Homo sapiens: one gene and its partners. The protein of the gene in region 1 purifies or fractionates together with the protein of each later gene. This does not show direct contact. Each region holds a gene or a part of one and is shown on either strand. Other genes may lie near its edges.

Evidence for each region.
Region 2: the proteins of FOXJ3 (region 1) and SMARCA5 purify together in Homo sapiens (affinity purification with mass spectrometry; one large-scale study listed by BioGRID and IntAct). This does not show direct contact.
Region 3: the proteins of FOXJ3 (region 1) and ZBTB10 purify together in Homo sapiens (affinity purification with mass spectrometry; one large-scale study listed by BioGRID and IntAct). This does not show direct contact.

The regions. Positions count from the first base shown.
Region 1 is NC_000001.11:42,276,224-42,279,883, forward strand, and holds part of FOXJ3 (forkhead box protein J3), read right to left. Parts: intron 2,562-3,660; exon of another isoform or gene 2,450-2,561; coding exon 2,125-2,449; intron 1-2,124.
Region 2 is NC_000004.12:143,523,614-143,527,273, reverse strand, and holds part of SMARCA5 (SWI/SNF-related matrix-associated actin-dependent regulator of chromatin subfamily A member 5), read right to left. Parts: intron 2,908-3,660; coding exon 2,807-2,907; intron 1,824-2,806; coding exon 1,723-1,823; intron 994-1,722; coding exon 814-993; intron 1-813. UniProt on the Homo sapiens protein: ATPase that possesses intrinsic ATP-dependent nucleosome-remodeling activity.
Region 3 is NC_000008.11:80,524,161-80,526,860, reverse strand, and holds the end of ZBTB10 (zinc finger and BTB domain-containing protein 10), read right to left. Parts: 3' UTR 596-2,700; downstream 1-595. UniProt on the Homo sapiens protein: May be involved in transcriptional regulation.

The DNA of each region.
Region 1 (3,660 bases):
TGGGCGCCTGTAATCCCAGCTACTCGAGAGGCTGAGGCGGGAGAATTGCTTGAACCCAGGAGACGGAGGTTACAGTGAGCCGACATGGTGCCCCTGCACTCCAGCCTGGACAACAAAGCAAGACTCTGTCTTAAAAAAAAGGGGGCGGGGGAAAGGGGAAGAGAGGGGAGAGAGTAATAATTGCTACCGTTATAACCTACCAATGAATGCTAAAATTAATGGATAAAAGTTTAAGAAATAAAGTACAGTAAGTCTTCATTTAGCACTACTAATGGGGTTCTTGGAAACCGCAACACTAAGTCAAACAAAAGTATAGCACGTCTTCAAATAACATCATTTCGTTATAATGTTGATGAGGAAAAAAAATTGGTCTCATTTTATGTTGTTTTGCTTAAAGTCAGTTTCCAAGAACCTATCAAAGTTGAGGACTTACTGTATTTGCATATGCTCAAAGCATCCCCCCAAAACATATTATTATTTACAAAGTGATAAATAGTAAACTTTACAATGAAGAAACCTGGCAGACATCCCCTTAACCGAAGAATCACAGTTAACATTCCCATTAAGACATACTTATATTATCTATCCTCTGATATGTTATGCACAAAAGGCCATATCGGTATTATTCTTCCCAAAAATGTATTACCTCATTCTAATTACAAGAAAACATCTAATCATGAGCAACATATATTGCCCAGGCTGGTCTCAAACTCTTGTCCTAAAGCAATCCTCTTGCCTTCACCTCTCAACGCGCTGAGATTACAGGCGTGAGCCACCATGCTCAGTCAATTTCTTAGTTTTGATAATTGTACTATGGTTATGTAAGATGTTAACATTAGAAGAAGCTGATGAAATATACATGGGAACCTTCTGTATTGCTTTTGCAACTCTTGCAATAATCTAAAATTCTTTCAAGATAAATATTTTTTAAAAGTCTTGGCCAGGCACAGTGTCTCACACCTGTAACCCCAAAACTTTGGCAGGCCGAAGCAGGAGGATCACTTGAAGCCAGGAGTTCGAGACCAGCATGGGCAACAGAGCAAGGCCCCATCTCTACAGGAAATTTAAAAATTAGCTGGCCATGGTGGCGTGCTCAGGCACTCGACCTTGGGTAACAGAGCAAGACCTTGTCTCTAATTAAAAAAAAAAAAAATCTTGGCCAGGCACGGTGGCTCACGCCTGTAATCCCAGCACTTTGGGAGGCCGAGGCGGGCGGATCACAAGGTCAGGAGATCGAGACCACCCTGGCTAACACGGTGAAATCCCATCTCTACTAAAAATACAAAAAATCTGGCCGGGCGCGGTGGCTCACGCCTGTAATCCCAGCACTTTGGGAGGCCGAGGCGGGCGGATCACGAGGTCAGGAGATCGAGACCATCCCGGCTAAAACGGTGAAACCCCGTCTCTACTAAAAATACAAAAAATTAGCCGGGCGTAGTGGCGGGCGCCTGTAGTCCCAGCTACTTGGGAGGCTGAGGCGGGAGAATGGCGTGAACCCGGGAGGCGGAGCTTGCAGTGAGCCGAGATCCCGCCACTGCACTCCAGCCTGGGCGACAGAGCGAGACTCCGTCTCAAAAAAAAAAAAAAAAAAAAAAAAAAAAAAATCTGCTGGGCATGGTGGCAGGCGTCTATAGTCCCAGCTACTCAGGAGGCTGAGGCAGGAGAATGGCGTGAACCCAGAAGGCGAAGCTTGCAGTGAGCCAAGATCGCGCCACTGCACTCCAGCCTAGGCGTCAGAGCGAGACTCCATCTCAAAAAAAAAAAAAAAAAAAAAAATCTTGACTGATAAAGACAGTTAGTACTAGTTGCAATACTACGTTGTTTTTCACTTTAGGCTCACTGTCAACTCACCTGAACTGCAGGTATGGTTTCCAGTGAACGCTACATTATCCCCGCTCTTACTTTATGCTACATCAGTCCTATAACATAATCAAGCTTCAACACACTAATAATCTACCAAAAATAAAGTTATTCACCTAAGCTAAAAACTTTTTGACATCCTAAAAATCACTAGAGATCAAAATTTCATATTCAATTACATGAGCATTCACAAAGCTTTATTTTCAGTAGAAATCAACATCATTGCTTACTTCATAAAAGTAATAATTTAAATAAAATCCTTACCTTCCAACCACTGCCAGCCTCTCTATAATATGGGAAGTTATCACAAATCCACTGATAAATTTCACTTAAAGTCATTTTCTTTTTGGGTGAGCTATTAATTGCAAATGTAATGAGGCTGGCATAACTGTATGGAGGTTTCCCATCTTTGTGCTGTTGGACTTCTTCCTGGTCCAGAGTTGTATTTGGGTCAAGGAGTGCATTCTTCTTAGAAATTCCTGTTCCATGTGCATTTTGTGTAGCATCAGATTTTTGGATGGCTGCTCTCATGGTGAGCTGTGGTAACCAGTCCATAGACGTTAGGCTGCTCTCCAGTTCAGATGTCATCCTGAAGGTAAATAGACTCCTTAGTCAATATCAAGGAAAGAACCCCTGCTTCTCAAAATATCCAATATTCACAAATCTAGGAGTTCCAAAGTGAGGGAAAGCCTGAGTTACATCTGGAGGAAAAAGATTGAGTATGTTAATGAGCAAACCAAATATTTAAGGGATCAACATTCCAATCTTTTTTCTTAATTTTTTCCTCACCAAAACATAACAAACTTGGTTTTAAAATTGTTTAAAATACAGAATATAGACAAACAAAGTGGTTCCGATGCCAATCTTTCTAAAAATCACTGCCTGTTTCTTTAAGAGGGCAACAGGATCTTGGTAAGAAAAACCCAGCTGCAGCCCAACTCTTTTACTCACCACCACCACAAGCCGTTAAAAGCTTAAAATGTACCTCTGGCATTTCTTTTACACAAATTTTAGGAGAGTCATAAAAACAAATTACCAAAAAGTAAGGTGGAGGCAAGAGGTCAGAGAAGTAACTGAGAAACTGGCATAGGAATCTGCATGAAGGAAAGAAGGTAGAGTTTATGCAGGTAGGCGGTAGGAAGAGTAAAGCAGGGTATACAAGAATAGCAAGGAGACAAGCTAGCTGGGGGAGTTGACCGAAAAAAGGAATGCAAAGTCAAGGACACTGATGAGTGAGAGAAAAATTAAATTAGGCAGTACCAGGGAGTTACTTTTTTTAAAAAACAAGTCAAGGAACAGGTTTACAAAAACTAACTGAAATTGTGGGAGTACAGAATCTAAGGCATTAAATCACATAAATGGTCAGCAAGAAAAGAAGCATTAAAAACTAAAAGACAGGTTTGGGCAAACGTCCAGTGATTTGAATTCTGTAGTGTATTTCTCTCCAAAGCTGAAAAATTCAGACCATTACCACACAAAGAAAGAAAACTAAATCTGCCAGGTTAACACATATCCTCGAAAAGGGAGAAAGCTGCTCTAAGAATTGAAGATAAGAATATAGAAACAAGGCTTGACACTTCACATTGGAATTGTTAACTTTCAGCAGAGGACATAAGCCCTTCTATTCTGGGATCAAAGAAGCAGGAATAATGACTGACAATAAAGTAGAGAAGAATGAAAAGACTTCTAAGTGATATCAAAATAAAGGAAAAAAGGACAACAAAATAAAAAAAAACTTAAAGGTTTCTTTTGACTTAAAAGTCAAAAGAAAACATTTGTAGCTATGAAAATCCCATATAG
Region 2 (3,660 bases), on another chromosome or scaffold:
GTACACAGCTATTCAGTAGAGTCTGAATAAATTTCCAAATCTGAGCTTTATATACTAATGTCATTATTTCCATCTCTTCTTCCCACAAGGATGTTGTCAACTGATCGAAATTTTAACTTATTTTGTTAAATATCATAATAAATCACCAAATTACTATATATGACTCAACCCGTCTTTAAAAACTCTAATTCTGTGACTATTACCACTACACACATTCATCTAAAAATGTGGCTCCTTAAATTTCCAACCAACTCACATTTCAAAATATCTTTTAAAAACAAGAAAATAACTTCTAATGAGAGCACAACCAATGATTTTATACAACCACTCCCAAAAGGGAGAGAAACAAACTACAGTCTTACAGCTTTCTACCATTTCTAATGTCTTCTTCCCAGTATGATTTTTTTTTTTTAAGATGGTCTTGCTTTGTTGCCCAGGCTGGAGTGCAGTGGCGCCATCTCGGCTCACTGCAACCTCCACCTCCCAGATTCCAGCGATTCTCCTGCCTCAGCCTACCAAGTAGCTGGGACTACAGGCCATGCGTGCCACCACACCCAGCTAATTTTTTGAGTTTTTAGTAGAAACGGGGTTTCACTGTGTTAGCCAGGATGGTCTCGATCTCCTGACCTCATGATCCACCCGCCTCGGCCTCCCAAAGTGCTGTTTTTTATCCACCAAGACAATGCTACATTTGTAAATACTAATATTTGCGAAGATCCCGTCTCATTTATCCTTCTTCCAGCTATACCCATACCCAAGCCTGAATTCAAATTATTTTAGCCTCAAAAATGTAATGAAATACTAGAAACTTACTCTTTGTTCTTTATCTCCTATCAAACAAACAGATCTAAGTGTTGGTACCCATCTCTTGAATTCACTCATCCAGTTGTGTAATGTAGACTTAGGAACCAAAACCATATGAGGCCCAGGAATGTTTCTATAATGTTTCATGTACCCAAGAAGAGAAATTGTTTGAAGAGTCTTTCCTAGGCCCTGAAAGATTTCAAAATAACCATGAAGCAGTGAAAAATGAAAATATTATTTCACAATTATACCTCCCAACATATAGAAATGTTCAAAAGAAATGCTACATATTTATAACAGTTAATAAATGGCAAAAACTTAACATATATCAAAGTTTGTAAGTGTTATGTCATATAATTTTCACAAGTCTCTAAAGGAGGTATTATTATCACCCGCATAAGGCCCCGTTTAAGTGACATTCCCAAAGTCATCTAGCAGAGCTAGCATTGAAACACATTTCTTTTGACTTCATACTTTCTCCAACCAATTAAACGTTTTAGCATTATAGCAATAAGGAAACTTTTTTAAACATTCATTACATAACTAGTAGTTAACAAAAGATAAATGTTTTCTAAGAATTGTACAAGCTACCACCTGGAAAAAACATTTATCAATTATAAACAATTAATGACCTCACTTTTGTTTTACAAAACTGGAAGCAAATAAATCATTGTACTATAAAAGTCATCCAAAAACATGTTTCTCAAATGTATTCTTTTTAAATTTATCATATTTTCAGCGATGGAAATTTCTCACAATTAAAATACAGATCACACTTATGCAACTAAGGCAAGCTGCTTATACTAGTTTCTGAGAGGATCCATTTGCTAACAGTTGTAGACTGTAAGAAACTTTTATCAACGTATAAGATATTTTCAATACAAAACATACCCTTCAAAAAAAACTACCAACACATACCATTTCATCTGCAAGGATACCATTGATGCCATTCTCATACAAAGAAATGAGCCAGTTTAATCCTCGGACCTGATAATCTCTCAGTTTACCCCATTTTACATCTAAGAACAAAAGAAAAGCACAATAGGCATTTTAAGACAAGAAATACAAGGCAATCTCTTCATCTAAGCCTACACATATCTACTGACTTTATTTTCATTACTAACGGATTCTTGAATAGGAACTCTGCAAGTTCCAAAATACTAGAGGTAGCTGCCATGGTCTGAAGTGGAAAAGCTGGACATGGAAGATAATCAAGTGCGGGAAACATGACTGCGGGCATCAGAGTACCCACTCCAACAACTCAGTTCTTACGTTACCCATATACTGGTCTGAGAGACTCTTTGGCCTCTCGTCTTTTTAATGAAAAACCAAGTGTTCCTAACCAAGTATTTTCAGCTTTCATAAAGACCAGATACAGGTTATCTGGGGATTTTATTTTCTTTCTAGTAAAAAAAAAAAAAAAAGAAATAGGAAATTCCTAAGTTACTTGTCCAATATATCTTATACATTCCAATGCACTCTCTTTCAGGGTATACTACTTATTTTGCTCCCCAGAATAATTACCAAATATACATAACGGTCACCTGATTTTTCTTTTTTAATATGTACACAGTGTAGCCCTCCATCTCCTTTTGAAAAACACTTGAGGATAAAAAGCTAACCAATAAACAAATACATTTCACAAAAAATTAAATTAATATAAAAACATCAGAAGTAAGCAAATGTGTTCATGAAGTACCTTTTTTAAAATAAATTAGTTTTCTTATGTGGGACAAATATAAAGCAAAACGATCCTTAGATTTACATATACTTCAGGGCAATAACAAACACAATGACATTTTATATAACTTTGAAATACAGCACTACTATCCTGTAATATGCTCTCATCTCCATCAAAATCTGAAGTTTATTTCATAACCAATAAACATCTAAGACTACTAAAAATTTGCTTCACAAATAGTAGCCAACACAAATCCAAAACATTAACCAAAGGAGATCTCAAAGGGCAATTTTTTAAAAAAATCAAGTGTGTTTAACATACACGATGGAGAGTCTTCAAATCGAGTGCAAACATTGGTTGCTTTGGAGCTTTCTGTTAATAGCTCTTCATCCTCCTCTTGCTCTGTTCTACGGTGTCGGTAACTGTTAAGATGAAAATAAAATAACCTGATTTGAGTTTTGGCTTTAATTATCAGCTACTGTTTAAACATCATAGTCAAGTGGCTGACCAAGATTCCACAAAATTAAATTTTTAACAGGCATCAACCAGTGGACAGTAGAAAATATGAGTACATTTAAATCTGCAATGTTTTAAATAATTATTTAAAATATACATTAGTTATTAAAATACACCAGTACGATACATTAACCAGAACCCAATAAACTCAAATATGATAGTCAAATTTCAAGAACTATGTAGTCAGAAAATCTCATTATTTGAATTTTAAAGTGTACCTTTTTAAAAATCTTTTTGCCAAGGAAAAAAAAGTTCCAGAAACCACATGTTTAAAATTGTAACTTCGAGCAAAAGCTGCAGCATAAGGACTCAGAAATTTAAGCAGTGACCACGGATTCATCAAAAAAATTTTTAAATACACATCTAAATTCTACATCCTAAGAGAATCAGATATACTACCCCCTTAAAAACTGATTTTCTAAAGTTTTAATACTGCCAATTAATCTCTAAAGGGCTTGGTTCAGTAAAACTATTAATACTTACTCCCCAATTCTGACACTTTCAACAAATATTTTCATCTTATTTAGAAAAAGGCACGTTATGCCTCTGTTGAGACCGCTGAATCTAATTTGTAACTTCATTTCTACCAAAACCACATGCTTGCTAAAAGGATAAGCGGCCTTCCAAGATAGAAGCATTCCTCAGAAATTCAAGGGCCT
Region 3 (2,700 bases), on another chromosome or scaffold:
AGGCAAATACAGGATAAAAGTTTAGAATGATTCCTGGCTCCAAAACACTGCCTTCAGTCTAATCTAAGATTTTAATAAAAACATATTTACGCCTATGAAATAATAAAACGTATAACTTTTAGGCAAATATAAGACTAACAAAAACATACCTACATATGTAAAATTCTAGACTTCACCTTAGGTAAAGTCCTAAAATAACTTCTTCAAATTTCCTTTGCCTAATGAGGATATGGCCCAGGACTAGTACTCTGGGATGCTGATTCAATTCCTACATTTGCTATTATTTGGAATTGGCACATTTTATTAATGATTTAGGTGACAAGTACTTGAAAAATTAGTGTGGGAAGATCTGCTTTGGAGAATTACCCATGTCTGTACATAAATGCCATAATCCTAATTATCTGGATTATTAGGAATCCAGATGCTACAAATATCCAAGGAGACTACTTGGAAACAGGGGACAGGTTGACAAGAGATGCTAAGCTTCACATTACCTTTTACATGAATATGTCTTTCATACGGTAAAATATAAATGCCAAAACCCAACATACCTCTTTACAAATACAAAAATCATGTTGGCAACTAAAACATTAGGTCATTTTAAAATACCTTTATTGATGTATTATTGCACTCTACATCAAAACTCCAACAGGGCTTTTCTTCTAGTTTTTTCACGTATAGACCGAATGTTGGGCATTTAAATGTTAGTGGTGTATATGCCAGACATTTTAAAACAAATACTTTGCAGCAAATGGCTAATAATTCTAAGTGTTCTGTTATGGAGACGGTTTAAAAAAAAAATCACAAAGGCTACTTTTGCATTGAGATTTCCATAGTAACATTTGCAGTAGGTTGGATTTGGTCATTACATCTTGCAGTAACATTATCTACTAGGGTTATGTATCCAGGGAAAGGATCCCAAAGGCTCAGTGTGACACCACGTATCATATGCTTGGCAACACAAAATAACTAAACGAAACTGGCTTGATAGCTACATGCCATATGATACTAATAGGCAAAATCCTTAAAGTTGCTAGTGCCTTTTGTCACTCACTTAGTAAATACTTTTGATCAACAAGCTATGTGCCAAATACTATTTGAGTGTACTCTGGAATCTTCTAACTTCAAACTTATCCCTAATCTCAAGTATTTATTGAATGAGTTTGGTACAGAAAAATAATACTGAAATTGAAGTTCAGGAGTCCTGGGTCCTAAAACTGACTGGAGTCACTGTAGCAACCTCTCTGGGTATGCTTCATTAGTCTCTTACAGTCTCTTTCAACCTAAATAATTCTACAATAATCCTGAAACCATCTTATGTATTATCTCACCAACTGTTAGGACCTGCGCCAAGAAGACTGTCTTGTGTTTATCTTTCACCAAGATTCTAACACATACCTACTTACACTTGGAAGATTAGCTTTTTCTTATTGCCAAATTTAAGACTGGCCGTGGTGGGAAAAAATCATCTGGCTGACAGTAAGGCGGCAGTATTAATAGCAGGTAAGGCGCCATGCAGTTATGGAATCTGTAATATTTTTCATTCACTTTAATTAGCTGAATAGATTTCTATAGTTCACTTTCTTTCTTTAAACTTCAGAAAGACAGTTATGTCATAGCCTAAATTCTGAAGTACCTTTAGTTTTCTTACCTAAACATAGATCCAATAATTCAATTTCCTACACCTGCTCCCAAACACTGGTCTGCGGTGATTTGTGGTGAAAAAGAAAGAAGTTCAGATAGTGACTTTTTCTATTAAGCCAAACTTGGTGTCTAAATTCTTAATTTCCTAAATTATGTCCTTTTTAGTGTCAAAACATCCTTCGTCCAGTACTTATACATACCAAATTTTATCATTTTAGTGTTTGTTGACTAAGCAAAATAAAAAGCAACTACAAGGGTCCCAACACCTAAAAAAAACTAAGCACAAATCCAACTCTGAAATAGAAATGTCTGGTCAATACTGCCTTTGTCAAAATGATTAAGTAATCTCTTTCACTTTTCATAGCGTTATCTCCAGTGGTAGACCTTTTTCTGAAGCAGCCCCATTTCATCTTTGGATAATTAAAAACCGATTTTCAATCTTGAGCCAATGGTCCCAATCATGACCCCTTAGAAACATATAAAGTTTCTTAATTCTTCTGCCTCATGATAGCTCTTTACATGTTTAAAGATACTAGGCATTATAATGCTATGTGGGCTCCCCTTTATTGTGCCCTTCTCCAAACAAAATCAACAAACTCCTGTTTTTCTAAGTCAAGTCTGAATATCTGGCCAGTTCTGATTTCCTTTGCTCTATTACTAACTTTGAAATAACCTAAAAAGCTAGTTATGTTTTCTCTACATTAATAAAGTTTCAAAGACTTCAAATTTATAACATCACATCACTTGTAGTCAATCAGTCCACAAATATACAACATGGGATGAAGCAGTTTACCTTTGCTTTTCAACCCATTTCCAAGATTATGCACAAATGTAAATTACAGGGAATTTTTAATATTTTCTAAAACCTGTAGAGAATCTTAAAAGATACACTGATTACAAATCACTGCTATTAATTAAAGCAGGATTACTTGGAGGTAGTCTGTCATTTATGTACTTTCATATAAAAACATACAAATAAACAAAAAACCCTTATAGTATTCCATAATTCAAACTTGTAAGCCTTAAGTACAAAGATATCTGAATTATACATAAGTC